Regions from separate parts of the Homo sapiens genome. Here region 2 is linked to region 1. The links come from fine-mapping of genetic effects on gene expression. A gene starts in region 1. The other region holds a variant in brackets. All regions are shown on one strand. Distances are between the middles of the regions.

Region 1 (2,801 bases):
CTTTCTCCCCAGATCCTGGAGGACGGATGACAAAGTCCCTCGCAGCCGCGGTCACCCACTGATCGCCTACAAAGAGAAAGCGGGAGGTTGGGTCAGTCCAAACTGGACCCCTGCGGCTGGGGTGGGGGTGGGGAAATAGACGTGGAAAATCCCAGGGACTCCTCCGCCTCTACGTTCCTGCACCATTTAACCCCAAGCTTCCAGTTAGCGCCCTGGCCCAGCTCTAGAGAAAAGATAAAGAGAGCAGAGATCCAAGATAAAGTTGGCTGAAGAGGTGGGGGGCGGAGGTCAGGAGGAGGGTGAACAGGGTGTCTTCCCGCCCAGGGTCACTAGCTGAAATCAAAGACTGGCGACCTAGGAAGAGCAAATAGTCACCTGCAGATCCAGTGGGAATAGGCCCTTGTCAAGGACAAGTAGAAAAAATTAAAAAGGAAAGAACAGGAGAGATTCCCCAAATTGGCATTCCGGTCTCACACCTGGCGCAGCCCGAGGGCCCCCAGGAAGAAGCACCCACACAAACTTGGTTCTCCGCCCTAAAGCGCTGCGGGGCCCCGAGGCACCAACCCGGGGTGCGGAGGTGCGGGAGCTGCCGCATCTCCGCCCGGGAGGCTCCTCGCTCCCCTCCCCCCGCTTCCTGGTGCCCGCTCTGGCGGGGTTGGGGGTGCCGCGGCGGTCGCTCCCGGACCAGGATGGCTGCGGTGGTTCTCGCCGCCGCGGGCGCTGTCGAGGAATCGGCCCGAGCGCGCAGCCCTCGCGGGGCTCCGAGGCGAGGCCGGGGCCGAGCGGGCGGTCGCGAGCGCTGCGGAAAATGCAAACCACCAACGCCGCGCTCTTACCTCGACCTCGGCCGCGGCCGCCGCCGCCGCCTCCGCACCAGGCAGCCTCCTCAGCGGACATGGGGCGGGGGGGTGGGGGGAAAAGGGGAGGTGGGAGGGGCCCGGGAGAGGAGGGGCGTCTGCCCTTGTTTCCCCCGTTAACGTTTAATTTGGGAACGAGATGCCCGGGGATGCAACCAGCCCCGCGCTCGGAGGCGGCGGTCGGAGTTCCGTGCGCAGAGGGCACACAAAAGCCTCGAGGATCATTGCCTCGACCCCATCCCCCACCGCGCGGCGACGCCCCCTACGGGCTGGGACACCTCCACTCTCGGACTGCTGCCGGGTTTCCCTCCGGCTGCGACCCTGGAGGTGGGAAGGAGAGAGGGAGGGAGGGAGGAAGGAGCGAGGGCGGGAGGCAGGCCGGTGGGGAGGAGCGGGAGATCAGGTTATTAGGAGGATTATTAATTTGAATGGCAGTTTAGGGGAAATAAAAAAAAGAAACTCCAGACACTTCCAGACGCCGAGAAGGGGCTGGAGAAAGCAGGCAGCAACGCTAGGCCGCGGGGCAGAGCCGCGGTTCGGACTCTCTCTTCCCCGGCGCTCCGAGCTGCGGAAGCCCAGGCCGTCCGCCGCTCCCCGGCGCACGCGGCCGCGCCTCGCCGCCCTCCCCGGTAACTCTCCTCGGGGCGGAGCCTTCGGGCTTCCCCCACTACCGGTACCTGCCGCGGGCGCCCGAGCTGCGGGCACGGGGTATCCTGAGGCTGTGCACCCGGGACCCCGGCGCGCACTGTCCGCGGGCCACGCGGTGAGGGTGGCTGCGGGCGAGAGGGCTCATGCTTCAGGGGAAGCCCAAGGCCCGCCAGCCGCGGCGGCTGCGACGAGACTTGGCAAGAGTTAAACGTCGGTCCCAGGAGCAGCGAGTGCGCGCGACTTCCCAGACCGACGCGCCTCCCTTGCTCCCCGCCTCCCTCCCCAGTCAGCGCTCCGCTCGCGCCCCGCCCGGCTGCTGCGGAGGCGGCTTTCCAGGAACTTTCCAGGAATCGGCCTCACGTGACCGCGGGCCCCGCTACTGCTTTAAAGAGGCTCGGTCGCAATACACAGGCTTCAGGGAAGACCGGGTGAGAGCGCTCGGGTGCAGGGCGGGCGGTGTGCACGCCGGGGTCGGCCTGCCTCTGGCCCCACACCCCGGGGTGCTCGGGCGCAAGCTAGAGATCTCCCCGGCCACCGGCTACAGCCAACCCCGTTTCGGCGGCCGGAGCCTGCCCCCTACCCGGGCCAGCTGAGCGCCCGGGTTCAGGGAAGGATAGCGATCCTTGGCCCTTGGCCTGCCACGGGGGTGGGTTCCTCTAAACATCCCGGCGGCGCCCCCTCGATGCGACCCTCCTGGCCGCACTTTTGCGGGGGGTGGGCGTGCAGGAGCGACTGTGGGTCCTCGGAAACCAGACTCTCCGGCTCTAAGACACATCGATGGCGTGGGGACGCCGTGCTCGTCCCGGTGCCCACGGCCGGGGACCGGAGGCGGTCCCCTTGATCAGGTCCTGGAAGGCAGCGAGCGGGAGAGCAGCGCCTCCTTAAGCGGCGCCGGCCGTCCTTAGTCCCCTCCCCCTGGCGCTCCGGCTCCTTGTCACCCGCACCCACCCGGCTCCTCCCTTCCTCCTCCCCTCTGCTCCAACGTCTCCGGTAGACCCGGCGGCCCGCCCGGGTCACCTGCGCCGGCTGCTAAGGGGGCGCCCTTACCTGCGCGCCCGGAAGGGGCTTGGTGACTGGCCTCGGTTCCCTCAGTCCGGAGAGTGTCTCTGCCATTCCCTGCAGGGCTGACGCCCCAGGGCTGGGATTCGGAAGGATCTCGGCACCTCTACCCTACCTGGGATTCTCACCTCCAACCCCGTTGGAGGCCCCCTGGCCTTAGTGGAAACTCATCTCCTTGTCTGCGCACCCGCCCCCGAAATATGACCTACTTGAAATGTGACCTACTTTTTAAAAGAA
Region 2 (2,801 bases), 170 kb before region 1:
CCTGGGCAACATGGCGAAACCAAATCTTTACTAAAAAATACAAAACTTAACCAGACGGTGACGAGGGCCTGTGGTCCCAGGTGCTGGGGAGGCTGAAGTGGGAGGATCGCTTAAGCCTAGGAGGTGGTGGTTGCAGTGAACTGAGTTGGACCCACTGCACTCCGGCCTGGATGACAGAGCAAGACCCTGTCTCAAACAAACAAACAAAAAGAAATAGCATCCTAGTAATTACGGCTCTCCAGCAATGGTATAGACTGCTTCGAAAAGCAGAAATGTTATAAAAAGATCCCTAGAATCCCATAGAAAAATTGGCCTAAAAAACCTCTATATTGTAACTCCAAAATTCTGATTCCATTAACTTAGTAACACAGGGAATACTGGCATTATCGGAGTACTAGTTAAGTTACTATTACTCTATACGCCACATTAATTCATTAAATTTAATATTAGGTATGCAGGACAATTGTCATAGCAACATAAATTATTAGCATTACAAGTTCCTAAACAGAAATATGCATAATACTAAAACGAAACTATTTTAAAGGGCAGACATTTATTTTTAATTCTGCAGGATTTCTTTTCAAAAGTGAACTTTGGTGTAGCCTCTGGTCTGGGGCGGAAGATGAGAATGGGAGGGCAGCCTGACCCCCCTCCTGATAAGGAAGGACCCAGCGCATAACCTGTTCAGGATCTGGAGCCGCACAAACACCTGACTCGCCCCTTCAAAACAAGATCCGCGGAATGGCTCGGGACACAACAAGAAATTGCCGGCAACCTGTGACGGCTCATTTTTACCGACAGTGGGAGGCGGGCAGTCGGAAGGAATGCCCATTTCTCCGGTGTTCCTTCCCAGAAGCAAAAGAACGTGTTTGTTTATGCAAGATTTACGTTTCACTCAGGTTTGGGTTGGGTTTGTTTCCTGGAGATGGAGCTGAGTTTCCCTGGTTTTGCTGGAGTGAGGACAAGCTGATCGCTCCGTATTTACCTTTCACTTGAGCCAAATTGGACAAATGCAAATAAACAGGTCTTGCAGGCGCCCCCCGGCAGTCGGCGCCGCCTCCCCGCGCTGGGCTGGGCAGCCGGGGCCCGCAGAGGCAGCCGGCGCCCTAGGGCGGCTGGGGCCGCGCGCCTCCCTGCCCCGCTGCGCGGCCCGCGGGTGCCCGGCCAAGCGCTGGCTTATCTGCAGCTCCCACAGCGCCCCCGCACTCACCAGTTCCTAGAGCAGGGATTCCGAGAAAAAAGAAAGAGCCGGGTTCCCTAGAAACATTAAATTAACACAAGGGATCTGGAAACAAAACAGCAGATGCCT[C/G]AAAGCCTTCTCCTTGACGGCTTCCTGCCTTCTTGGAAAATCTTTGCATTAAAATAGATTGAATTACCCTGCTCTGCCAGATGCTGCTCGGGAACTTCATTTTGGGCTAACATGAAAGGAGAGTTTGACATCTTTTAAAGGATTTTTCTTTTCGAGGTGGTTTGAGGGGCGCCTTTGGGTTGCTGACATTAGCAAGGACCCAAGGCTGAGCTTTTTGCATTACAGTCGAGAACTTTCCATAACAATGGCTAGCAAATCAGATAACAAAGATCATGGCGTGTAGAGGAGACGCGGTGGAGCATAGAATGAGCACTAAGGGTTCAGAAGCCGAGGTTGCTGTCTCTGGGAAGAGCCTAGAAAGAGCACAGGCCAGCCGCCTCCTTTTACAGGGGAGAAAATGTCTTTTATTTCTAAGCCTACTTATTTTGACCATAGCTATGAGAACTATCTAATGGCATTTCCAGAGAGTCACAAACAAGCAGAAAGGCTTGTGAGTAGTATTTTATCAGCCTCTTTGTTCTAAAGCCCATCGTCTAACCTCCACCGACCCCTATCTACAAATTAATCAGACCATATAATTTGTAAATTCAAACCCAGATTAATAACCACACACCTTGAACAGTGGGTCTTCAGCACAGAGTGTATTCCACTTTCCTGTCATGTTAACTTTCATATTTAAAGAATTTTGGTAGCTGAGAACAAGATCCAAAGCTTCCTATGAGGTATCAGGATTTTACAGAGTAAATTGTTTTTACTGGAGTAGGATCTTCTTTGACATTTTAACTTTTTTTCATGATAACCTTTAGGAAAGGACGCTATAATCCTTAGTCGCTAATTTATATGTGTCATGCTTTCTAGTAAACTGGAAAATAACCTACATTCTTAAAAGGATTCTATGCTTATCCCAAATTTAGGAGCACAAGATGGGGGAGAAGTATATTACAACAAGATACTCTAAACACAAATAAAATTAAATATCCTTGCCTAAGCATGAAAGCAATAAAACTCATCTTAAAGCAATGCAGTCAGACAAAATCATTGCATCTGTAATAAGGGTAAGTACACAACTCCGGGAGTTAGCAGCCCTAAATATTTCTGTTCTAATGACACACAAGAGATACACAAAATCTATCATTCCTCCCTGATGTACGAAAAAATAAAGGGCAATTTCATAACACCTTTGGTGCTTTCTAACTTAATAGCTGGCCTTCAGGAAAAGCAAGTATAATTTTTGAGTGTTTATAAGAAAGCAAAGGAAAATGTTGCAAAAAATTACTTGGCTCAAAGGCCACAGAGAAAGCCGGAATCTGCAGGACTCACCAAGCTACACAGCTGTTTTAAAACCGAAAGTCAAACAGCTTTTAAAAGGTATTAAGTATTTTCTACAACAAAATCATCAAATATACATACTTCTTTTTATCCTGCAAATAGACATTTTATTTCTATTAGAAAAAAACTATAGTTACACAAACAATAACTAGACTGCTGTAAT

The links.
Region 2: its variant is fine-mapped to the expression of SOCS2-AS1 in whole blood (TOPMed, PIP 0.90).

What each region holds. Positions count from the first base shown.
Region 1 is chr12:93,569,950-93,572,750 of GRCh38, reverse strand. SOCS2-AS1 (SOCS2 antisense RNA 1) reads left to right here and starts at 1,353. Exons shown (of 4, transcript NR_038263.1): 1 at 1,353-1,486. It overlaps SOCS2 (suppressor of cytokine signaling 2), which reads right to left and starts at 76. Exons shown (of 2, transcript NM_001270471.2): 1 at 1-76. RefSeq lists silencers at 630-939, 950-999, 1,360-1,639, 2,010-2,199, 2,260-2,309.
Region 2 is chr12:93,740,742-93,743,542 of GRCh38, reverse strand. The region is part of intron 2 of CRADD (CARD and death domain containing adaptor protein); the gene reads right to left. Among named protein-coding and RNA genes, the nearest start is that of CRADD-AS1, 4.3 kb to the right of the region's middle. RefSeq lists silencers at 936-1,025, 1,056-1,225 and enhancers at 312-1,268, 1,269-2,225. The variant C/G (reference allele first, on the strand shown) is at 1,310.